Homo sapiens: one gene and its partner. The protein of the gene in region 1 purifies or fractionates together with the protein of each later gene. This does not show direct contact. Each region holds a gene or a part of one and is shown in the gene's direction. Other genes may lie near its edges.

Region 1 (7,145 bases):
AACAAAACAGGTCTGGTGCTGTGACTCACACCTGTAATTCCAGCACTTTGGGAGGCCAAGGTGGGAGGATTGCTTGAGCCCAGGAGTTTGAGACCAGCCTGGGCAACATAGAGAGACACTGACTCTAACAAAAAAAAAATTAAAAAATTAGCCAGGCATGGTAGTGTGCACCTGTAATCCCAGCTACTTGGAAGGCTGAGGTTGGAGGTTTGCTTGAGCCTGGGGGGGTCAAGGCTGCAGTGAGCCGTGATCACTCCACTGCCCTCCAGTGTGGGCAAGAGAGCAAGACCCTGTCTCAAAAACAAAAACAACAACAACAACAACAACAACAACAAAAACGGTATGCTATGGATTCCCAGAAACTGAACTTCTGTTCCTGGAGTTTAATAAAAAGACACAAGGTGGTCCATAAACATACTACAGTGGAAAGAAAATGGTCCTGGCACACAGGAGCCCTGATGCAGGCTGCCGGCCACCAGACCAGACAGGAGGTCACCAAAGGGCTTTTAGTTATCGAAGTTTTTTCTACAAAGAAATCCATAAGTCCAATGCACAAAACAGATAGGGTAGAGCTGCCCAATTTGGTTGCCAGGTAGGCAGCCTGCTTTTTAGCCACTGAGTCCCCCGTCTCCACCCCCTGTTCCCAGGACATCTCTGTAGAACTCAGAGGACTCAGACTGTCCAGCCTCTGGGTAGGTAAGTCCTGCAGTCTTTTATTTTTTAATGAATTGCTTGCCTAAACTGAAAATCAGGATATTTTACCAAAAAAAAGAAAGTCAACTTTCTTTTGAATAATTGGAGCTGTGGGCTGTGCAGTCTTTTATTTTTTAATGAATTGCTTGCCTAACCTGAAAATCAGGATATTTTACCAAAAAAAAAAAAGTCAACGTTCTTTTGAGTAATTGGAGCTGTGGGCTCCTGGAAACAGCAATTGATGAGAGAGCTGAAAAACAGTCTTCTTCAGTGGGTCACTTTCTTTTTGCCACAGTCCACGTGTGGCTAACGTCCTGAATTCTCATTATCCATCTGACTTTACAGTTACTCCGGCCTAGTGAGGTCCACTGTAAAATCCCTGGGATATATATATGGCCTCTTGGGGATGTTCCAGCTCAAGACATTCTGCAGCTGTAGAAAAATTATTACTATATTAAATTAAGTTGTTACTAAATTACAAATTCCTATTAATTCCCATTTTAGTAAGGAGAAGTCACTGTTTTAGTCATTCTGTTCTCAAGCTATAGCTCTTATATTTGCTTAGTCAGAAACCATGTTGGCAGTATAATAAAATGAATTAGAATGTGGTTGATTGTCTTCTGCTGGTAGTTCTCATCCCTGTCCAGGCACCTCCTCCCTTGCCCCTGCCCTCAATCCACCCCTAGCACTGAGAGGTTGCTGAGAGCAAGAACCCCTTCCTCCTCCTCCTGAGAACCTTACAGCCCAGCTCCACCATCAGGCACATGCTGATGTCTTCCTAGAAGCCTCCCCACCCTGGTTAATTTGTTTCAAATATCTTAGGTTTTTATGCTCCATTTACTCGAGTTAATCTGCAAATACTTACCTACTCTGTGAATGTTCTAGGATATAATATTAGATACATCATCACTTCGGCCCTGGGGACAGATCCTTCATCCTGTTGTTTAGTGGTGTCCTAATCACCAGGAGGAGCTAAAGAGTTGTTTTCTAAGCTGGTATCTCAGATACCTTTCACACTTCCTCTGATTTCCAAGTTAGATGGTAACAATGAATGATGCACAGATATAATACATACACAATCTAAAATACTCCAAGTAAATATAGGAGCATTCGATTTCAAAATTCAGCATAAAGAATAAGTTTCCAGGTTGAGAGAACTCCTCCAGCATCACTGCCTGGGGTGGCTCCAGGCACGTTCTTTACCTGTCTTGAAGGTCGAGTTGTCTTTAAAGAAAGACATTTACTACAACGGCTTTGAAATTCCATGAAATTATTCAAAATGCAGAACAAGGTCAGAACACGTGAAGGGGAGGGTAGATTATGCAGGACAGCCCTGGATTTCTAGACAATAGCTGCATTTCTGACCCCAAAAAGGCAACTAATATGGATATGATTTTGATTTCATCTAAGAGAGGTTCTCAAAGCTACAAATAAGCATTGTAAGGTTTGGGCAAAAAGGAAACTATCAGTAAATTTGAGAAAAGTGGCCAGGCACAGTGGCATGCGCCTGTAATTCCACTACCAGGGAGGCTGTGGCCGGAGGATCCTTTGAGCCCAGGAGTTCCAGGCCAACCTGGACAACATAGTAAGACCACATCTTGAATTATTATATATGTATGAGAAAAGTGGAAATTATAAACTAAAATCAGGATTTGTTCTCATGAAGGTAGTCAAGTTTGGAAAATGTGTAGTGGAGGGGATGTGGTTCTTGCATTAGTCAGCACCGGGAAGATGGTGTCGGGGAACACGCTAAGCCCATATTGTACGTCTGAGTTTTCAGAGCCTTGTCAGCAGAGCTGTACTACCAGATAAATCACGAACAAGAGTGCGTTCAAAACCACAACGCTGCCCTGGAAGGCTTTCCAAAAACTCAACTGATAGGTGATAAAAATTTTTTAAATATGACTTGCGTTATTATGATATTAACTGTGCAAGAAGGGGAAAGGTAGAAAAGACAATCTTGGCGAGTAGATAGATCTGCTGCTCATGGCAGACACTAGGGATGGTACCTGGGTGTTCACTCTGCTCTTCTCTTTACTTTGGTTTTTGCTTTTTAAAAACGAAAGGAGCAAAAAGAAGTGGAAAGTCGTGGAGGCACTCGGCCCAGCCCCCACGTAGTTCAAGGAGACCAGGAGGGAGCTGGCTGGTGGAGGTCCTGCCCACCTGCCACACTCCGTATTTGGGCAAGCCTGTGAGTCACTGTCGGGAACATGGCTCCCTTCGCCAAGGCCAGCACTGACCACTATCCGTGTATCGGTAAACGCAGGGAGTGTGCCACGTGCCTTGACAGTCTAGCGCGACGACTTAAGAAGTCGCGGCTAGGTGCTCTTTTTTCCATTTTTTTACGTCTCTTCCGTAGCCCGGGAATTTGGGAGAGAAGACTACCGTATCCAGTTAGACGCAGAAATAACACTAAGCAGCTATCAGCTCAAAATCACAGGAAGAGATCCCGCGCGGTCGTCTCAAGCCCCAGCACCAAACGACAGTGGGCGTCCCAGCGGGGGCACCCGAGCGCGGACCTTCACATCCTCCGAGGAACGCCGCACCCGCGTGGCGGGGGTGGGTAGATGGACCTCAGCGAGCCTCGTTTCCCAGTCGTGTTACGCAACAACTTTGCAGCCGTCATCTTCGCCCTAATTGTGCAGGGGGCGGTGTTTGTGCGTGGAGCTTTCCCTCCCGGCTCCGGGCCGTCGCGGCTCTCGGGAGAGGCGCCGGGACATTTTAATCGCTGCCTCCGCCGCGCAGCCCTGCGCAGCTGCCCGGCCGCGCCAACCCCTTCCCCGCCGCAGCGCGCCCCGAGTGTTGGCAGCTTGCCAGCCGCCACCCCCCGCCTTCCCTCCTGCCCACCCCAAGGTAGAGGGCTCCTCTCGGGAGTGTGCGGGGAAGGGGAGGCCGAGGTCCGGGCCACGCCCGGGTAGCCGCAACCCGCAGTGCTCAGTCGGCAACAGGTAGCCCAGCAGGCTGCGGCTCTCAGGAAGACAAAAAGCGCCTCTGCGAGCAAGTGAGGGTCGCGGGGAGCGCAGAGCCACCGCGGCGACCGGGAGGGTGAAGGGAGCCAAGAGCGGACGGGGCGGTGGGACGGGGGGCTCCCGGGCTCCTCCGCAGGCTCGCTCCGGTCGTGTCGGCCGCGTGGGCCGTTGCGCAACACTCGTTGCGCCGGGAATGGGGCGCCAGCCCTCGCGGGCGCTCGGACGGCGGTGGCCCTGGCCGGGGAGGGACGCGAGCTGGTAGTGGCGCCGCCGCGGAGGGGGAGCTGAGGGCGGGGAGGCGGGGCGGGGCCGCGGAGTGCCCGCCCCGGCCCGCCCCTGCCGGCCGCGGCCATTGGCGGCGGGCCGGGGGCGGGTGCGGGCGCGGCGATTGGGGCCGCGGCCGCCAGTCACGCGGGGCTGGCGGGCGGCGACGTAGCGCGGCGCTCGGAACTGACCTACTAACACACATCTCTCCGCGCGGCCACGGCGCCCGCGGACCCGGCGCGCCCGCCCGCCTCCCGCGCCGCGCCCTCGCCGCCGCCCGCCTCCCGCCGCGGCCCCGGAGGCCCGGCCCGGCCCGAGCCCCGAGCGCCGGCGGCCCGACTCCCGGCCGCCCCTTTCTTTCTCCTCGCCGGCCCGAGAGCAGGAACACGGTAAGCGCTCCGCCCACCGCCGGCCGGGGGCCCGGCGACCGCTCCCAGGGCGCGCTGCGGGCGGGCGGGCGGGCGCGGGGTGCGGGCCGCGCTGTGTGCGGGGTCGGGCTGTAAGCTGGGCTCGCCAGCGGCGGCGAGTGCGCGCGGGGCATTCATTACATAAACTTTTGCTGCCTTGTCAGGATGGGACTCGCCACCTTAAGGTGGCTGCTTTGATTGCAGCGCCTTCGCGCCGGCACGTAGTCCTGGCTGGTTTGCGCTCTCCCCCCGCTGCTGTTGCATAATGTCTCCTGATTTCAGGAAAATTGATGTTTTGGTAAAGAAGAGCGCCAGGCAGGCTGAGCCCTCTCCGAGCGGGAAGATGCTCTTTCCTCTCTAGTGTCTTTCTTTCTCGTTCCTTCTCTGGGGCTGGCGGCGTAGGGGGGAGAGGAATGGGGGGTTGAGGAATGGGGAATAGTCTTAATTTGCTTGGTGAGAAAAAGGGTTGGTAGCGTGAACGGTGACGGCATTCGGAGAATGCCTGCGCGGCGTTTGTTTGTGTCAGGGGCTGTGTCTGCACAGACGTTTTCCACCCTGTTTGTCGTCAGCGTGTTTTACAAGCCCTCGGGAAGGTTGTGGGATTTGTCCTTTCATACATTGCATAATCTGCCCACGGTGAAATGTTGGCAAGAATTGCGGGCTGATGTGGGAATATGCGCGTATGTGTGCAATGATTTGGTAATTGAGGCGCAGCGTTGGATATTAGATCGTTATTTACGTCTATATTACGTCCCAAATAAACAGGTTTTAAAACGATACTACAAAACCTAAAAGCAAGAATTGCTCGCATTGAATTCTGATCTTGGGTACTACTGGGGTTCGCCCTTTCAATGTTCTCAGCTGTTATTTTTAAATCTGGGACGAACCATTGTGACGTTTACCTCCCCACCTTCCTAATTTTAATGCATTCCATTCGATCAGCCCTTTTTCTCACCTTATTGTCATTGCTTTTTCAGACACGACAAGACAAATCACATAATAGTTTCCTGGAAATGTTGCATTATGTAACTGCCGAATTTGCTGGCAGTGAGCATAGAGAGAGGGAGCTAATTACGTGATTTTATAATCTTGCTACAAAGAAAGTAGGACAGTCTCAGCCTTTAAGAATGTCACTATAACAGTTTTTTTTTTTTCCTTAAGGATATTTTAAACAGGAAAGTAGACAACCGGGTAAGCATGGAGTTTGCTCATGCTGCCGAATGTGTGTCTTTTGCCCTAAATGAAACGCACGTTCTTCTAAATTTAGCCCTATCACATTTTAACAATTGTGGCCTCGCAGTGCTATTTCTGGTGTTTTCTCCAGGGCTGTGTGCAAATACAAGTTCAAGGCCATTTGCTGTAGTTTTAACTCCACGCCTTCGGAGACCTTTGATAAGATTGTATTTTTAGGAAGGCATTTCGCAGCGCCCGGTGATTTGCTGGATGCTGGCTCCCATTTATGTTTTTAAAGGACACTTTAGGAAACTGCTGTTCTCTGAGAACAGCAGGGAATGGCCAAGTGTCATCTTCTGTTCTTGGCTTTTGTAAATAACAACAGTAAGTGAGGTCAGAAGTATTTATTTACCCCCAGACCAGATATGACCTATGGGAAACAGATATAGGTTAGTAGATTGTTTTTTTGTCTGGATACCCTGGTTTTACTTATGTGAAGATGTGTGAATATGTAATTTACCCAAATATTAAATTTCTTCCTGGACTGTTACATAGTGATTATGTGTGAATATATGTATATGATGGGATGTATATATAACGTAACATTTAAATTAAGTGCAGGGTTTTTTTTTGTGGGAGGTGGGGGGTGGACGTCTCTGGAACAGAGTATATTACCCCAAATAATTGCAGTCGCTTTCCAAGAAGCTAGTTGCTCTAGGCCCCCAGCTTCAGACCCCGACCTACTTTGCGAGCTCGGGTGGGAGTCCCAGGCCTGTAGGGGCCGCGTGGCGCCACCTTCCGATCGCGATCTCCAATGGCGAGTCCGTGCGGCCCCCAGTGCGCCGCTCCCTCCTGCGGGCCGGTGGGGTCTGCGAGAATCCGGGGCTGGGGGCGGGTCTGGTAGTGGCGGGCGGGGACCTCGGGTCGGGACCGAGAAGCGCCTCCGAACGGCAGTTATACTGGGGCTGCTCAGTGGCCTGAGCTCCTCCCTGCCCCCTCCCCACATTCCTTTGTTCTGGCGCGGGGGGTCCTCGCGGCGCCGAGGCCCCGCTGCGCCGCCCACCCGGAGGGAGGAGGGTCTCTGGGAGGCGCCGCGTGGGGGCGCGGCCCGTGGAGCCCGGGCGCTAGGGACCGGCCGGGGCCGGCGTACGGGTGCGCTCTGGGTTCGCCCGGGCCGCGGGAGCCAGGGAGCCAGGGAGCCAGGGACCCCGGCTCCCGCACGGGGCAGACAGGGGCAGCGCGGGCGACCCGGAGCGCCTGCGTCTCCGCGGCCCTCCTTCCAACAGGGCAAATCCAGGGGCCTGACTCCGCGCCTGTTCTGCGGTGAGGTTCAGAAACCTGCAGACACCTTTGTTCCAAGAGTCTTCATTGTATTTCGGAACCAAGCGCGTCTCCATTCTTGAAGTGAAAAAGACCTTAAGAAAAACCTCCAAACGTCCACCGGCCACAGAAATTGGGGGTGGAGGCGCTCCAGTATTGATAGTGATTAAAAGGAAGGCCTCAGCTTGACTTTGGCCAGTTGAGTTGAGCCGATTTTTTTTAACCTTTAATTTATGTGGTCAAAGGCTAGAGGAGAGAGAACACTGATCTCCAGAGTTCAAAATAAAATCTAAACGCCCACATAGACGCTGCTGTCCTA
Region 2 (7,025 bases), on another chromosome or scaffold:
TGTTCTACTTCTATCCCTGCTGGTCACTAGGGATTACTTATTCTCTCCACCACAGCTTTCTCATCTGTAAAATGGGGACAATAAGAGTACCTTCGTAATAGGGCAGTTGTGAGGAGTAAGTAAGATGTTACAGGATGAGTACTTAACAGACACTGAGTAGTAAATGTTAGCTCTTATTACAGGCTACAGGAAAGAACTTTTAGGAATTAGTTGCAGCAATTCATGGCAACTAGAACTATGTCCCATTGAGCTGTCAGAAGTGTCCTGAGGGATCACAAGATCACAGAGTTTTATTTTATTCTTTCTGAAAAGAAAATCTAAGGGGAGTTTACCCAGTCTGTATGGGAGCCATGCAGATGATTCAGTTTGGCTCTTTAAAAGAACTATTTTTAAAAATAGAAGTAGGACTGCTGAGAAAAAAATAGTACTTTAAAGTATACATGGGTTGGCCAGGCGCGGTGGCTAACGCCTGTAATCCCTGCACTTTGGGAGGCCGAGATGGGCAGATCGCTTGAGCCTAGGAGTTCAAGACCAGTCTGGGCAACATGGCGAAACCCGTCTCTACAAAAAATACAAAAATTAGCTGGGCATGGTCATACGCACCTGTAGTCCCAGCTACTAGGGAGGCTGAGGTGGAAGGATCTCTTGAGCCCAGGAGATCAAGGGTGCAGTGAGCCGAGATTGCACCACTGCATTCCAGTTTAGGTGACACAGTGAGACCCTGTCTCAAAAAAAAAAAAGTATACATGGGAGTAAATGTATTTAGAATTTCTTCTCTGTGTGTCCCTGCTAGCAACCCTAGTCTGGTACCTGAATAAGCAGCATCAAGAGGCATCACACACACTGATGAGTGTGGTAGCTCAAAATACAGAGCCCTGATTCCACATACATGAGCTCCCATGTGTGGCTGGGGCTCTGCTGGGTCCTGGGGGCAGGAGGAGGATGGAGAGGCAGGCCCTACCATGGAGGAGGTTGTGATCTAGGGGCAGGCTCCTAACCAGTTAACATGTGCACAGTTTGGCAAGTCTCTCACAGAAGTCTATAGCATGTGGGGGAACCCAGTGGAAGAAGTGATCGAGCTCTAGGATGAGGAGGAGACTGGGGAGAACTTCAGAGAGCCCTTAGAACTTGAACTGGGACTGGGCACAGCAGCTCACACCTGTAATCCCAACACTTTGGGAGGCCGAGGCAGGAGGATCGCTTGAGCCCAGAAATTGAAGACCAGCCTGGCCAACATAGTGGGACCCCATCTCTACAAAAATTAAAAAAGAAAAAAATTAGTTAAGCGTGGTGGCATGTACCTGTAGTTCCAGCTACTTGGAAGGCTGAAGTGGGAGGATCACTTGAACCTGGGAGTTCCCAACTCCCAGTAAGCTGTAATCACACCACTGCACTCGAGCCTGGACAACAGAGTGAGACCCTGTCTCAAAAAAAGAACTTGAATTGGATCGTGAAGAATGAATAGAGTTTTCTGGGGGTCTATGAAGCCCTCCAGGCAGGGGGAGCAGCCTGGCACAAGCACGGATATGTGGTAATTTGTGTGGCACTTTAGGAACCACAGGAGTTCTAGCCCAGAGTGTGAAGGGACTGACTGCAGGATGTGCCTGAGAGGTAGGCAGGCACTAGGGCGCAGATGCTTGAATTTTGTATTCTGTTGGTGATGGATGCCTTGCATTAAGTGGAGGAAACATACCATTAGACCTGCATCTGCTTTGGAGGATGGAGTGGGTTGGGGAGAGGTTGGAGTCCCCATAGGAGGCTGTTGCAGTAATCCCAGCAAGGGCTGAGAGGGGCTTGGATCAGGGCAGAGGCAATAGGGTTGAGAAGAAGAGCAGAGATGAGCTGTTTGGGGGGAAATCAACTGGACTCTGGGAGTGTTTGGAAGTGATGCCAGAGGGAGGAGGAATGGTGACAGGTAACCTTGAGGTCCTTGGTTTGGGTGACAGAGTGAATGATAGTGCAGAGATAGGGATGGCTCAAGGAGAAGATAATGGCCAGTGAAATCTGCCAGCTTCGTTCAGTAAACCCTGGGCACACCCTCTCGGGAGAGGATCAGTTGGAAGGTCTTGTAGACCCCTGTCTGGACTTGGGCCAGGCTTCCCTTTGCTTTCGCCTGAATCAGCACCTGGGAGAAGGGCAGCTTTCCTTCCTTCACCTTTCCTCTGCCCAGATTTAACCAGGGAGGTGAACCTCTTCATGTTTCACATCTATAAAGCGATAAATCTTCAGCCTTCCAATAGCCCTAAGAGCAACCCTTCCCTCTGGCAATATCCACCCCGATTCAGCATACTACAGCCCACTGATGGGGTCCTGAACAGCAGAGACCCTCAGGGGAGAGAGGCTTTCTCAGTGCCCCCTGGAGATCTTATCTAGAGAGAGGTCTGGAAATTGGATTTGCTGCCTGAAGCTGGCTCAGCAGATTCAGTCCTTCTTCTCAGGAAGGACTGATATCTGCCAGAGGCCACCCAGGACTTGCTCAGAACCTTCAGGGAAGGGAGAGAAAGCTGCCCAGTGTCCTTGACCCTTGAAGTTCTAAGGGAGCCAGAAGCTGTCCCTCAGCTGGATTGGACTATAGTGAGGGGTGTGCTGGTGGGCGGGCCTTCAAACAGGCCCTTTGGAATTTGGGAGATTTTTTTACATGATTTGTCCTTGGGTTTGTGGTGTAAAGAAAGTAAACGAGAAAATGATCTGAAACAAGAGCACTTCTTTCTCCTCCACCTGCTCAGGTGAGACTCTGACCTCGAAGGTAGTCGAGGGCCCACAGCAGCCCCCGCATATCCTCCCAGGCTCTGTAATCAAGATCCTAGAGGGGAAAGGATGCAATTGCTTGCTGTGATTTACTTACTATCTTAGAGATAGTTCCACTTTGGCACATGCAGGTCTGGGTCATTTGTGGCTATGATGTGTCCCACTGTGAGTGTAATTTATTCAACAAGCTCTCTGCTAACAAACACTTGGGTTATTTTCTGCATTCTACTCTCTAAACACTTCTGCTGAAGTGACTTTCTTCATACATATGATTTTGCCCACCTTAGGTATCATCTGCAGGATAAATTTCTAGAAGTGAATTGCTGCCTCAAAGACTATCCTTTATTATTATTATTGTTAAAGAATTTCTAGGTCTCCTTTTAATAAATTGGGGCAGCCTTATTTTTCCCCCAGCAAGTGAATCTGTTCTTTTGGGTTGAGGTCGTACGTCCTGAGGGGAACACAGGTGTTCCCACTCCCTAAAGAGGCTACAACCCAGGCCGGGCGCGGTGGCTCACACCTGTAATCCCAGCACTTTAGGAGGCCGAGGCAGGCAGATCACGAGGTCAGGAGATCAAGACCATCCTGGCTAACACGGTAAAACCCTGTATCTACTAAAAATACAAAAAATTAGCCGGACGTGGTGGTGGGCACCTGTAGTCCCAGCTACTCGGGAGGCTGAGGCAGGGAATGGCGTGAACCCAGGAGGCGGAGCTTGCAGTGACTGCCCTCCAGCCTGGGTGAGAGAGCGAGACTCCGTTTCAAAAAAAAAAAAAAAAGAGGCTACAACCCAACGGTGTTCATTCTCTCCTGGCCATGACAGTCAGTCTTGGGTGTGAGTTCAGGCTCCCCAGAACTTAGCAGTCTACAGGCCTGACGGTTTCAAAGGAACTCTAGTTGTTGGAAAGCACCAGAGGTAGAAAAACTGAGAAGGGGTCTTGGCATGCAGAATAAAGCTGTCCCCTCTAAATATGTTTACACACTGCCACCTACTTGGCAAAAGAGATAGAAGATCTTCAGCCTTTAGGAAGTCTGGATGCAAGGGTCCAGAAGGAAGAGAGAGTGGACTGGTCATTGTAGTGGGAATTGGCAAGAGCAGGACTGATGTGCTTGTCATTTCTCTCTGGGGCAGAGCTGATGTGAGGTGTGTTGAGGGGACAGCAGTGCTTCTAGGGAGAAGCTCGGTTCAGCGCCTTGGGGACCTTGGGCCTGGTGTAGCCCAGCATTCCGTGGGGCTTTTGGAATCCTGTTGCTGGCATCTGCCAACCCTGGGGAGCAAGAGTCCTGCTACTTTTTGCAATAAGTATGGCGCTTCCAGCATTACTGAGTTTGGGGTAAGTTTCATAGTGTGTGTTCTTTTCTGACTCCTGGAGTGGTCCCTTCTGAAAAAACAGGAAGGAAACCAGCAAAAAAAGGAGGCCCGGCTGGCACGGTGGCTCACGCCTGTAATCTCAACACTTCGGGAGGCCGAGGCGGGCAGATCACGAGTTCAGGAGATCGAGACCATCCTGGCCAACATGGTGAAACCACATCTCTACTAAAATACAAAAAATTAGCCAGGCGTGGTGGCGCACGGCTGTAGTCCCAGCTACTCAGGAGGCTGAGGCAGGAGAATCGCTTGAACCCAGGAGGCGGAGGTTGCAGTGAGCCAAGATCGTGTCACTGCACTCCAGCCTGGTGACAGAGCAAGACTCCGTCTCAAAAAAAAAAGAAAAAAAGCCCCACCACCTCCCAGGTCCTTTGTAATACTGCAATACGTTATTGAATCTAAGGAAGTAAGGGTTGTCTCTTATTTTACAGAGAACACTCAGGCTCAGAGCGGGGTAAAAAGACTGTCTACTATTACACAGCCAGTAAGGGCAGAGCTGGGATTTCCAACTCACATTTGTGTGACTCTAAAGCCCATGTTCCCTTCCTCCATCCTGGCTAGGCTCTGGTCCCAGGGAGTCCAGCCCACATAGAATCTTGGACTCATAGAGCCAGCCCCAAAGCTGAACCAGTCCCTTTTTTTGCCTGAAAAATGGAAACTGCCACTGCCTTGAGACAGGTCCCTCCCTGACCTGCCCTATGGGTAGTGGGCAAGGAGACTTGCAACCATGCAGTTAAGGGCCTAGGCTCAGATCAGATGTGGCTTCAGAACCTGAAGTGAGTGACCTTGAACAAGTCACTTCCTGTCTCCAACCCCAGCTTCCTCCTCTGTAAAATGGGCATAACAATTCTTGCCCTTAAGGTAGTCATGAGACACAGGGCTTTATAGCCTCTACCACGTTCAGCCTAGTGCATGGCAGGCAGGCAGGACCCAGGGGCCAGCTCCAGCAAGGCCCAGGTGAGCTCTTGGCAGTGAACCTGTGAGTGTACCAAAAGAGGCATCCTGAGCCAGTTTTCAGCCCTTATGGATGCCAGGGGGCAGGCAGGAAGTTCCTTATAGGCATGTTTGCAGCCTATCTGGAGAGCTGCAGGGGTGTTGTCTTTGTCCTTCTGCCTCTCACTCTTTTGCTGCACCATTGCATTGGCACACAAGCTCACACATCCAGGGCACTTATGCTTACACCTCTTCCCAGGCCATACTCTCTCAAGTCTGCCTTCTCTGAGGCTCAGCCTCCCCTGATTCCACTACTACTTTTTTTTTTTTTTTTTTTTTTTTTGAGACGGAGTCTCACTCTGTTGCCCAGGCTGGAGTGCAATGGCATGGTCTTGGCTCACTGCAACCTCCGCCTCCCAGGTTCAAGCAATTCTCCTGCCTCAGCCTCCCGAGTAGCTGGGACTACAGGCGAGTGCCACCACACCCGGCTAATTTTTGTATTTTTAGTAGAGATGGGGTTTTACCATGTTGGCCAGGCTGGTCTTGAACTCCTGACCTCATGATATGCCACCTCAGCCTCCCAAAGTGCTGGGATTACAGGCGTGAGCCACCACGCCTGGCTCCACTACTACTCTTAATAATTCTAATGGGTTCAGAAAATCTTTAGATTTTAAAAAAGTATTGTTAGTTTAATAGTTTATGGTACAATAGTTAAATAATATGGGAGAATATAAAATAAAGCTCTCCCTCCCCTCCTTGGGCCCTTAGTTCTATTGACTGGAGGTGTCCACTTAAATTTCTTCTAGGCTGGGCACGGTGGCTCATGCCAGTAATCCCAGCACTTTGGGAGGCCGAGGCGAGTGGATCATGAGGTTAGGAGTTCAAGACCAGCCTAGCCAAGATGGTGAAACCCCGTCTCTACTAAAAATACAAAAAGCCAGGTGTGGTGGTGAGCACCTATAATCCCAGCTACTCGGGAGGCTGAGGCAGAGTATTGCTTGAACCGGGGAGGTGATAGTTACAATGAGCCGAGATTGTACCACTGCACTCCATCTCAAAAAAAAAAAAAAAAATTTCTTCTAGAAGTTGCCTATGCGTATTCAAAAGTGTGTATAATCTTTTTTAACCCAAGTAGGATTATGTTGTACATATATTCCTGCAGTGTGCTTATTTTGGTAACATAGACATCTTTATCAGCAGGTGTGGACCTAGTCGGAAAGGCTGCATAGTATCCATTGTCTAGCTGAACATAATTAGTTAACCAGTCCTCTCTGGATGGCCATTTAGATAGTTTCCTGCCTTGGGGGCATGTGTGTGTGTGTGTTGATTTTTATGGTTTTGTTTTTTGCTGCTACACGTGGCTCTATAGGGACTTTTGTTGAGCACATTATCTTTGTGAACCTGTGTGAGTATATCTGCAGGATCCATCCCCGGAACTGGCATTGCTGGGCCCAAGGCAGGTACATTTTCTTTTTCTTTGTTGGCTATGGTTTCACACCTTTTTTCTGCATACCTTCTGGGCTTGTGCAGAGCCTGGGAGGCCTGAGGTGGACCAGACCCTTCTCGAGACCTACATATAAGCAGACAGGTAATGAACACGCCCTCAATGCATGGACATAGTCTTTCACTGGTGGCTGCTGGCCCTCGTGATCTGCCGTGTCCAGCTCTTGGTGATTCAGAGCAGGTGAAGCCAACAGAGGGGCACTCTGAAGGGATCGCCTGCTCTTGGCTTTTCTAATCATACCAGGCAGCCTGTTGCCCCTCTGAGCAGCCATAGCCCTCAACATTCAGTCAAACTTCAGAAAGTGAATTGTATTGCTCGCTGTCAAAGTCGTGAATTTTTTTTTTTTTTTGAGATGGAGTTTTGCTCTTGTTGCCCAGGCTGGAGTGCAATGGCGCGATCTCAGCGCACTGCAGCCTACGCCTCTGGGGTTCAAATGATTCTCCTGCCTCAGCCTCCCTAGTCACTGGGATT

Evidence for each region. The genes of interacting proteins can lie anywhere in the genome.
Region 2: the proteins of NFIL3 (region 1) and STK40 purify together in Homo sapiens (affinity purification with mass spectrometry; 2 studies listed by BioGRID and IntAct, with this or other methods). This does not show direct contact.

Annotation. Positions count from the first base shown.
Region 1 is NC_000009.12:91,420,810-91,427,954, reverse strand, and holds the start of NFIL3 (nuclear factor interleukin-3-regulated protein), read left to right. Parts: upstream 1-4,122; 5' UTR 4,123-4,315; intron 4,316-5,526; exon of another isoform or gene 5,527-5,955; intron 5,956-6,250; exon of another isoform or gene 6,251-6,333; intron 6,334-7,145.
Region 2 is NC_000001.11:36,375,901-36,382,925, reverse strand, and holds part of STK40 (serine/threonine-protein kinase 40), read left to right. Parts: intron 1-7,025. UniProt on the Homo sapiens protein: May be a negative regulator of NF-kappa-B and p53-mediated gene transcription.